Linked DNA regions of Homo sapiens: region 2 is linked to region 1. The links come from fine-mapping of genetic effects on gene expression. A gene starts in region 1. The other region holds a variant in brackets. All regions are shown on one strand. Distances are between the middles of the regions. Region 1 holds the start of RPS6KA3 (ribosomal protein S6 kinase A3). Region 2 has its middle 130 kb from the start of RPS6KA3.

Evidence for each region. PIP is the estimated chance that this variant, and not a neighbour inherited with it, causes the effect.
Region 2: its variant is fine-mapped to the expression of RPS6KA3 in whole blood (TOPMed, PIP above 0.99).

Annotation. Positions count from the first base shown.
Region 1 is chrX:20,264,086-20,269,459 of GRCh38, forward strand. It overlaps RPS6KA3 (ribosomal protein S6 kinase A3), which reads right to left and starts at 2,824. Exons shown (of 22, transcript NM_004586.3): 1 at 2,479-2,824. The coding sequence starts at 2,547. RefSeq lists an enhancer at 1,055-1,104 and silencers at 2,285-2,544, 2,665-2,884, 3,306-3,600.
Region 2 is chrX:20,392,430-20,397,803 of GRCh38, forward strand. No RefSeq gene overlaps it. Among named protein-coding and RNA genes, the nearest start is that of RPS6KA3, 130 kb to the left of the region's middle. The variant T/C (reference allele first, on the strand shown) is at 2,137.

The DNA of each region.
Region 1 (5,374 bases):
GTCTTCAATATTTCCAAATTGTATCAGAAGTAATTTACTTGAAATAGCTGAACAAGCAAAGGAAATTAAATATCTAAAGGCAATTTGTTAGAATTTAATTTTAATAAATCTTGGCAACACTGGCTCTGTTTGACATACTTTATGCCAGGATAGCAAGAAAATTCTTTGAAAACAGCAAATTGTGGAATCCTATCTGTCAAGTTCTGGAAAACATGATAGTAACTGAAATAACAAGGCTTTACCAAATGAGACCTCTTATAATACTCTATTTGTTTCTGGAAAATAGATGACCTCTAACTACTGGCTTATTTATACCCCGAATTTTTCCACAAAAGATTTGGAACAGCTACCCTGATATAAAACGAAGCACATGAATTGTATCCACCTGGCTTTGAATTATGGCTCTGCCATTTACTATTTATCATCTTTGTACCTTTTAAATTCTGAGATTTGGTTTCCTAATCTATAACAATGGGGACCATAATCCTACCCTGCTGGGTCACAGGAAGGATAAAATGAAATAGTAATGTAGCACAGTACCTGGCATACAGTTGGTGCTAAATAAATATGTTTTGTCCTTCCTTATCCAAATGCATTCCAGATAGAAAAAGGATAAGGTGGAATTCTAAACGATATTGTTTTCCTATCACACTGATACATGCCAAGCAGAAATGTGGACTGATCTTGAGTTGCAATTGTTAATGTTTGTATGTAAAAGTCAGGCTCAAAGCAAATTTAATTTCTTTCCACAAGTTCAGTACTTTGCGAACATTTTATTAACCTTTTAGCTATATTATTTAATGCAAAAAATTTTCTGGGGAAAAATATGACGAGCTCTTGCATACTGTTTTTCACACTACCCATCTAAAGGATTATTAAACATCATAAATTTGGCTTTTTAATAAAATATTTATAGTATTAGTCTGGTTAACAATTTTAAATAAAGTTCTTGTGATTCTGCCAGTCTTAAAAACATGATTTCCTTTCTTTCTTTCCTTTTCTTTCAACATATATCAATGTCTTTTCCATTGAAGAGCAGCATTTAGTTCAGGTTTTACAAGTATGATCCAAGTCGCAAAATACTAAGCACCAATCATAAGCACTATTACAACTCTGCGTGCGTTAAGGAGAACAAGCAAAATTGTTATACAGCAGCGGAGGTGACTGGGGGAAAAAGTGAAAAGCGATTTGAACTGATCCCCCGCCCTCTCCATTATACCGGAGAATGCAAGTGTCCCGCATCTCAAGATTAAACTGAGCCTCGGTTTTACTGACGTAACCAGTAACCCTATCTACTTCTCACACTGCGGAGGCCGGCAGGGCAGCGGCTGCCGCCAAGCACACCACTCATCAGAGCCTGCCCCGTTCCACCCCCGCGTTTCAGTCATGCTTTCCAGAAATGGGGTCACTCACTCAGTAACTATTACACACACGCAGCCTATCATCCTGTAATCCCCTAAAGTCCGCTGCGGGGAGAGAAGGCAGCAAAAAGTCAAGAAGGAAGAATCACAGACGCGCCACCATCAGGAATTGATTTTCCACTCCGGAGAGGAGCGGTGATACCTTGGAACGGGTCTTGTCTGGATTATTTTCGCAGACCCCGAGTTGTTCTGGGATAGGGGCGGTTCAGGAAAGCTCGGTGTAGTGATGCGCCCGGGGAAATTCTGTTTTGCCCTGTTTGGGTATATTGTTTGGGTTTTGGGCACTAGGATGGGTGACTCAGGGACGGTCACCAGATCCCGGGCGAGGAAAACCAGAAAGCCTTTTACGGCGGCCGCTGATCTCCTTGAATATCACCCTCTCACCTCCATGGACAGGAAACTCAAGTTAAACTCACAGGGACGGGGGTCTAGCTCTGCGACCTCAGAAACGGAGGGGGTAGGGGACCTTAGGCTTCCGCTTTCTTCTTTGCAGCAGCAGAAACCGCTGCGGCAGACGAGGGGGAGGCAAAACCCTGCACCCCCTACCCGAAACCCCCACAGGTCGCCGCCGCCCGTGCCCCGCGCGCCGGTCTCCCCGCAGCAGCCCCTCCCTCGGCTGGACTCGAGAGTCCCTGCTCCCCGGTGAACCCGATCCCTACCCCTCCCTCATCTCCCAAAGTCGCCAAGGTCCGGGAAAGCCCCCGACCCGGCTGGGCCAAACTTCCCAACTCCCCGCCGGCCCCCGCTCCGCCTCCCGCTTCCCCCACGCAAAGTTGATTAAAATTGGCTTCTTGCAAAGCCCCAGCGCCCACTCCAAACCCCACGCGCCACCACACTGGCAGCCCCCCGAGCGAGGGAAGGAGGTGAGGGTGAGGATGGAAGGAACAGACAGACCGGCCAATAGACCCACCCCAACAACCCAAACCAAAACCCTGAGCCCGGGGGAAAGACGCGAGCGGGATCAGAACGGGCCGAGTGGCCAGCTCCGGGGAGCGAAGCGAGCCGGCGGGGGCGCGAGGAGGAGATGCGCCGGCCCCGGCCGCCCTGCTGCACTCACCTCAGCGCTGTCGGACGGGCTCTCCACAGCCATCTTCTGCCACGGGTCCGCCAGCTGCGCCAGCGGCATCTTCCCCCCCGGCCCGCCGCCTTCACCGCCTCCTCCCTCCCCGCCCGCCCCACGGCCGGCCCCGCTCCGTCGCCGCCCGAGCCCCACGGCAGCGGCGGCGGCGGCGGCGGCGGCGGCAGCGGCAGCGGCAGCGGCAGCAGCAGCAGCAGCGGCGGCGGCCCCAGAGAGGGCTCGACGCCGACGCCGACCGCCCGAAAGCCGCGCGCCTGGCCAGAGACGCCCGCGCGCTGAGCGAGAGCCTCGCGCCTCCGCTGGGCACCGGGTCTCGCCCCTTTCTTCCTCTCCTCCTTCCGCCGCCGGGACTACGGCTCCGCCCCCCCCGCCGGTTCCCGCGCCCGCTCCCAGCAGAACAGCGACCGCCGCGCGCTCCCCCACTTCCGCTCACAACATGGCGCCTAAGCGATACCTGTCTCTCAAAGCGAGGCTCGGCCGCCGCCACCACCGCCGCGCGCACCCAGGGGCTGGGCTAGTGGAAGACACGCCCCCGGCCGCTGCGCTCCGCTCCTCCCTCTTCCCACCCCCCTCCTTCTGCGCCCCAACCTCAGCTTCTGGGCCTCGCCTACTTTCAGGAAGGGCGAGCCCAACAGATCTGGGGGCGTCGGCGGGAGGCGGGGGAAAGAAATGGGAAAGGCAGGAGGGGCGAAGGCTGGGAGCCTTTCACCGCCAAGGGTCCAAGGAGGTCGGAGGCTCCTTGGGAATGAGGGAGAACAGTGGTCCCCGCCCAGCTGGGGAGGGAGGTGGGCAAAGTACCGGGGGCGCAGTCCCGAGCCAAGGACCCGGGGAGGGGTGCGGAGTGTCTTTTCGGCTTGTCTCCTCCGGGGGTGCGTGCGTGCGGACGCGCCTAGTCTCTGGGCGCATCCCGTAATGGCCCAAGACCCTCCCTCTTCAGGGTCACATGCTGGGAAATCACCTGCCCCCCATCTCCCCCGACGGAGGCAAGGGAGGCTTCGTGCCTAGGAGCCTCCTGGGGGCTCGGCTCCCGGTTTGATTCAAGTCTTTTCAAGTTGACGCTCTTTTGTTAAATTGTGGCTATTTGGGATTAATTCCTCTTGTATTAGTCGCTTCCCCCGCACCGCCCCCAGCCCAAATTCTCCTCCCCAAGTGCGCAGAGCTCTCGGCCTTCAGCTGCGACCCTGGAACCGCTGCCCCCCGCCCCACGTCTGCTACCTAAATCTTCAAGAGGGGAAAACAGGGAGGTTCCTTAAGGCTGTCCCTCTCGGTAGAGGTTGGAGAATTATTTAAAAATATCTTGTAGGCAGGAGCGCGGGGTTCCTGCTCCTCTGTTGACTTTAAATAAGAGATTAGATTTAAAAATCAGGCTGGCCGTGGGCGGAGGAGGAGGAGGAGGGGGACAGAGGGAGGGGAGGGGTTCTGACTCCTCCTCCTGCCCAAGATGGGGAAGCCCTGGATTAAGGAAACCCAATGCCCCGACGGCGACGGAGCCCCACAGGACGGCGAGAGCTTTGGGGGGAAGGCCTGGGCGTCCGGGGTGCGTCCCAAGAGGACTCGACCCTGTGTTCACTGCGCCAGGAGCCGCTGCGCGCTAAGTGCGCCCGGGCAGAAATGTGTAAAAGTCGCAGGGCTGAGTGGAAAGCTACTGCAGCCCCTGGCTAGTCGCCCAGCGAGGGGAAGAGAAAAAGCAAAGGGAGATCTCCGAGCCGGCCTGTCCCTTCAAACCCTCAGGCCGTGGCCCAGGCATCCCGGTCTTCCCACGCCCAGCGACCACGGCGCGTCCGCTGCTGCGCTCCCAGCGCACGCCTATTAACAGCTTCCTTTCATCCTCCCGGGACCCAGACACCTGGAGAACCCTCGCCTGCCTCCCTAAGCAGGTGTGAGGATGAGATTAGAGCCCCAAACCCAGCCGGCCAGGTCTGCGCGGGCGGTGCGAGGTTTCTCGCTGGGCCTGCGAGAGGCAGGTGTTGGGCTCTTTCTGCTGCCTTCGCCAGCGCGCCCCTTGGCACAGGCTCGAGGCCGGGGAACCTCGTGGCCATTTAGGGAGGCTCCAACTGTTTAGGGAGCCTGAGAAGGCGGCAGGAAGTCCTCGTTGCGCGCCTTCTCCCGAAGCTTTGGACTCAGGGGGACCGCTCAGGTTGGACAACATCTGGGCAGACTCAACGTGGTCTGGGGAAGAAGGCGAATGGGGCCACTTGGCTCTTGCCTTTGTCACTTCCCTTCACATGCTATATTCAGGTGTTGCAAATCCAACCTGGGCCCAAACTCAGCTAATTTGGCAGCACCTTCTCTGTGTAATTCCCGACGGTAAAACGTGCTTGCAGAAGTTTGGAGGATAAGGAGTTGTGTACTATTTTGCATTTATGTACAAAATGCTTTATTCATTTACATTGCAGAGTCACATGACCACTCCTTATAGCGAAAAGAAGTTCGTTAATTCGGTTGGCTTAAAGTAAATTAGCTCCCCCTACCCTTTGATCAATTATTTCAGTTAACATTCTTGCATTAGTAAAAACATACATAGTTGAAGAGAGACCGTTATGTGGCTAACACTGTTCAGTGCTAATTACCCCCACGCAAAGAATGAATATTTTAAAATAAAGCAAATTGTATGCCATTTTCAGTATCAACTTTTATTCATCTCTGTTAACCTTGAGAACCAGAGGAATAACTTTTAAAACAGAGTTACCTGATCTGTAAAAGTAATGTGAGCGGTGGTCACGTTTCAGTGAATTAAGCATTACATGAACTGTTAATAATGGGTTAAAGTGGCCGGGTGCGGTGGCTCACCCCTGTAATCCCAGCACTTTGGGAGGCCCAGGTGGGCGGATTACCTGAGCTCAGGAGTTCCAGACTAGCCTGGCCGACATGGTGA
Region 2 (5,374 bases), 130 kb after region 1:
CACAGAATATTTCATCAACCAGGTACTAAGCCTAGTAGCCATTCATTATTTTTTCTGCTCCTCTCCCTCCTCTTACCCTCTACCCTTCTTCGCCAAGTAGGCCCCAGTGTGCATTCTTCTCCTCTATGTGTCCATGTGTTCTCACAATTTAGCTCCCACTTACAAGTGAGAACGTGTGGTATTCGGTTTTCTGTTCCTGTGTTAGTTTGCTAAGGATGATGGCCTCCAGCTCCATCCATGTTCCCGCAGAAGACATGATCTCATTCTTTTTTAATGACTGTATAGTATTCCATGGTGTATAGGTACCATATTTTCTTTATCCAGTCTATTATTGATGGGCATTTAGGTTGATTCCATGTCTTTGCTATTGTGAATAGTGCCACAGTGAACATATGTGTGCATGTGTCTTTATGTAGAACAATTTATATTATTTTGGGTATACACCTGGTAATGGGGTTGCTGGGTCAAATGGTAGTTCTGTTTTTAGCCCTTTGAGGAATTGCCACACTGCTTTCCAGAATGGTTGAGCTAATTTACACTCCCACCAGCAGTGTATAAGTGATCCCTTTTCTCTGCAGCCTCACCAGCATCTGTTATCTTTTGACTTTTTAATAATAGTCTTTCTGACTGGTGTGAGATGGTATTTCATTGTGATTTTGATTTGCATTTTTCTTTTCTTTTTTTTTTTTTTTTTTGAGACGAAGTCTCGCTCTGTCACCCTGGCTGGAGTGCAGTGGCGCGATCTCAGCTCACTGCAAGCTCTGCCTCCCGGGTTCACGCCATTCTCCTGCCTCAGCCTCCAGAGTAGCTGGGACTACAGGCGCCCACCACTGCGTCCGGCTAATTTTTTGTATATATATATATTTTTTTAGTAGAGACGTGGTTTCACAGTGGTCTCGATCTCCTGACTTCGTGATCTGCCCGCCTCGGCCTCCCAAAGTGCTGGGATTACAGGCGTGAGCCACCGTGCCCAGCCTGATTTGCATTTTTCTAACGATCAGTGACGTTGAGCTTTTTTTTCATGTTTGTCGGCTGCATGTATGTCTTCTTTTGAGAAGTGTCTGTTTATGTCCTTTGCCTGCTTTTTAACGAGGTTGTGTGCTTTTTTCTTGTAAATTTGTTTAAGTTCCTTATAGATGCTGGATATTAGACTTTTGTCAGATGCATAATTTGCAAAAATTTTCTCCCATTCTGTAGGTTGTCTGTTTATTCTGTTGATAGTTTCCCTTGCCATGCAGAAGCTCTTTAGTTTAATTAGGTCCTAACAATAAAAAATTGGAAATTGAAATAAACAATATCATTTACAATATTGTCAAAAACGTGAAATATTTAGGTATAAATGTAACAAAATATGTGCAAGATTTTAATGCTGAACATTAGAAAACATTGCTGAGAAAAGCTAAAGACCTAAATAAATGGAGTGATATAGCACATTTATGGATTGGAAGACTCAATATTAAGATGCCAATTCCCTCTGATCTATAGATTTAATGCAATCCCAATAAAAATCCCTGCAGAGTGGTGGAAGTTTGGAAGTTTGGAAGTTGATTCAAAAATTTGTATTCATGTGCAAAAATACAGCATCAGCTTTGTTAGATAAAATAATGCCGGAAAACATTTATTGAATGTTTACTGTGTGCCAGGTATTGCTTCACATACTTTGAGTGTATTGAGAAATCTAGTTTTCACAACAATCCTCTGAGGAAAGAAAACAGTCTTATCCCAGTTTATTGATATACAAACAGAGCACACAGAGTGAGAGTAACTTGTTTGAGTTTATCAGCTTTTGGTTTGGAGAGTTTGCCATTGAACCCAGGCAATTGGAATCCAGAGTTCAGCCTTTTAATTACCTGTAATCACCAGTTTCTGTATCAACTAGCTATTGTTGCAACCAACCACAAAAATCTCAGTGGCAAATGATAATAAGCTTTAAGTTTCCACATGTCTGCAGGTTGGTGGGGGCAGCTTTACTGATTTCAGCTAGACTCAGCTGGGTAGCTCCAACTGTAGGGTGAGTTGAGGGTTTCTTCATATGTCTCTCATCCTTCTTGAATTATTGGCTTAATCATGGTCTGTTCTTCTCATGGCGATAAAAGAAGCAAGAAAGAGGGACTCCCATCAGAACTAAGGCCCACA[T/C]CAATCTGTCTCCTATTTTGGGCTTTAATTGCCCAAGTCAAGGGAGGGAAAAGTAGAAAACGGAAGGTCTCTTTTGCAAGGCAAGGAAGTCCCGCCCTGATGTGCTCATAATGGGGAAAAGAATGCAAGGCCTAGGAGCTCCTTCCATAGGCCGGCTGGATCAAGAAAGTCAGATGAAGAGGGGGGGCATTTCTGCTCACTGACATTTTTGCCACCTGAGGAAAGATGAATGGATGTCAGACTTCTGTCTGTATTCATGAAATGTCTCATGGAGGAGGGGAGTGTGGGGTGAAAGCTTCTGTCTACCCCTTCTACCGCTTCTGAGGAAGTGTTAGGAGAAGTTACTATGTAAGGGCCAAGGAGGCACAGAAAGAGAATAACCTTTTCTCGTATAGAAGGCAAGGACTGGGTTCTTTACATCTTAGTATCCCTCTTCTGACATGGAAGTTTCCTAAGAAGTGTAGTCGAACAATAAGTGAAATTCGCATTTTCCATTCTTGAAGAAGAACCTCCAAAATTTCCCTCTCTGAAACCTTACTTCCTGGGGGTTCCACTTGGCCTGGCAACAGAAACCGTGTTTGCTTTCTGAAGAGTATTTTGGCCATCTGTTTTGGTTGCCCTGAGTTACTCCAATATAGCCGCGAAGAAGCTTGTCCTGCTGAGGTTTATCACTGATTGCAAAACTAACCCTGGCTAGCAAAACTGGCAAATTCTGCTTAGTGAGTGTGTGTTTTTGTTGTGTGTATGATGTGTGTGTGTGTGTGTGTGTGTGTGTGTGTGTGTGTGTGTGTGTTTTGAGCAGAGTTTCCATAGAAAAAAAGAAAGGCAAGATGTTGCCCAGCTGTATTGTCCTGGCAGGACTTCTTCACATAATTCTCCTGGAAGTTTCTGCAATGTTTCTTTCCCTTCCTGTCTCCCTGTTTCTATAGAACTGTGAAGATTTACTGAGTCTCTCCAGCTGTAGCCTAAATTCCTCACTGAGACAGTTTCAGACTGCCTATTCTGAGGTGGGAAGGTGTAGGATGGGAGGTGGGGAGGCTTGTGCCCTTATTATATAAACTGATCATTATTGGAAGAAAAAAAGCTGAATCCCTCAGAAATGTTAAGACGTCTGCTTTGACCACACCCTCAGAAGCTAGCACTATTGCTCTGGGTTAAGGGCAATAGCATTTCTTGTAAGCCAGTTTTTAACCTCTTTTGAACCCTCAGCGGCACAGAATTTCAGGGCTTGACTACAGTGGATTCTATCTGAAATGGCCTTCAAGAATTGTTCCACAGAAATACATGGACAGAAATAGGTGTTCTTTGGTCAAATTCAGTGTGGGGAATTTTCAGTCTATATGACTCTTCCAAAAAAATAGTCCAGAAATATGTAAAATGATTTGAATTGTTCCCATTTAGTTCAAATTCTACTACTCTGTGAGCTCCTTAAGATCAAGAAATGTGCCTTGTGGTAATTCAGCACTTAACAGACACCTGGCAGAGATAATAAATGTGAGTGAATGAATGCATGAAATAATGAAATATCACATCCTCAATAAAGTTTTTTCCTCCCTGAAATAACTAGCATTTCTGGGAATTTTGTCATTAAAAAAGTTCCGCTTCAATTGCCAACTACTATATCATTTATAAAATTATTACTGCACAGAAATTATCTATTTCTGTGTAACAAACTACCCCCAAATTTAGTAGCTTCAAAATAATAACCATTTATTATTTCTCATGATTTTCAGGGTTGACTGGACTCAGCTGAGTAATTCTTCTGCTTCATGTGATATTGACTGGGCTGTAATCAACTAGGGGCTTGACCGGGCTGGGCATCACAATGGCTCACTAACATGGCAGATGGCTTCCAAAAGGGAGTGTCTTAAGTGTGACTATTTGAAGAGAGAGGAAACAAAAGTGGAAGCTGCCCAGTCCTCTTACAGGGTAGGCAAAGAATTGGCTCAGTACTATTTCTGCTGCCTTCTGTTGGTAAGCAGCCACGGAGCCATCCCTGATTCAAGGGGAGGGGAAATAAACTCCACCTTTTGAGGGGAGAGTGACAAATAATTTCTAGCCATCTTTAATTCACCCTATTGTCTATGTAATAATTGACATGGAGAATAAAACAATGGTAAGAGGCGAGAGTAAAGTAGGATGAGTGAAAAGATTGCATCAGGGGAGCGAACTAGTTAATTAGATTGGATGTTGGTAAACAATTAATCTGAATTAATTGAAAGCCGAGCCTGACATGAATATTGTAAAAGAGATTGCTGAAAAATCAATAAACATCTTTGAAGAATTATGGAAAGCAGGGATGTCCCAGAAATCTGGAGACAGGTAAATGTCATTGCCATTTTCAAAAATGTAAAGAAAGTGGAATCACTGCAAAATTTGATTTTGATTCCAAGCAAGATGCTAAAAGATATTATTAGAATGACTAGGTTCAGCTGGATGTGTTAGAAATCAAAATAACAAAAACATAAAATATGGAAGATTATTTTTCTCTCTGTGTAAATAAAACATAGATCACAAGGCTGATATGGTGGCTTCACGAAGTCATTGAGGACTCATGTTCTTTTTAGCTCATTATTCCACCAGCCCTATTTCTCACGGTCCAAAGTGATGGCTAGAGTTCCAATGAATGCATCTACATTCCAGAATTTTTTTTAAAAGTGGAGAAGGGGAAATCATCCATCTAATCTTTTAAAGAGGTTTTCTGGATGCTGCCGTACAACCTCTGCTTATATCTCATTGACTAAACCTTAATTTTGGGTGGCCATGTGCTACCCTAAGAGTTGGAAGTTTTATTACAGAGAAGGGCAGGATGGATTTTAGGGTAGGCAACTAATAGTATCTGCTCCAGATGCTTTGTCCCTTCTGGTAGAATCCAGCATGCATTTTCTAAGAAATCATGGCAGAAATGCTAAGCTTTTAAGGCTGGAAATGTAGTTCCCCCTCCTCTCTGGGTTTTAGTAAATGGCATATGAAAGTGCATTGTGTATCAGACCATCTTATCCTCCTCTTCAGATTCTCTCAGCCTCATTTGTCTCCTGGACCCTCTGTTATTTGTGTTGCCATGGCAATCGTCTCTGTATAGGCCTAAGTGGTCTTTTTCTTGAGCCTGGAGCCCAGACTCTTGGCTCCTCTCACCATATCCCAACTCAAATACAACCCCAGGGTGTGGGATCTGGTATTCCCAGTGACTGTCAGAGAACTCAGGTGATGCAACAGGAAAGTGCAGGTGAGTTAAGTC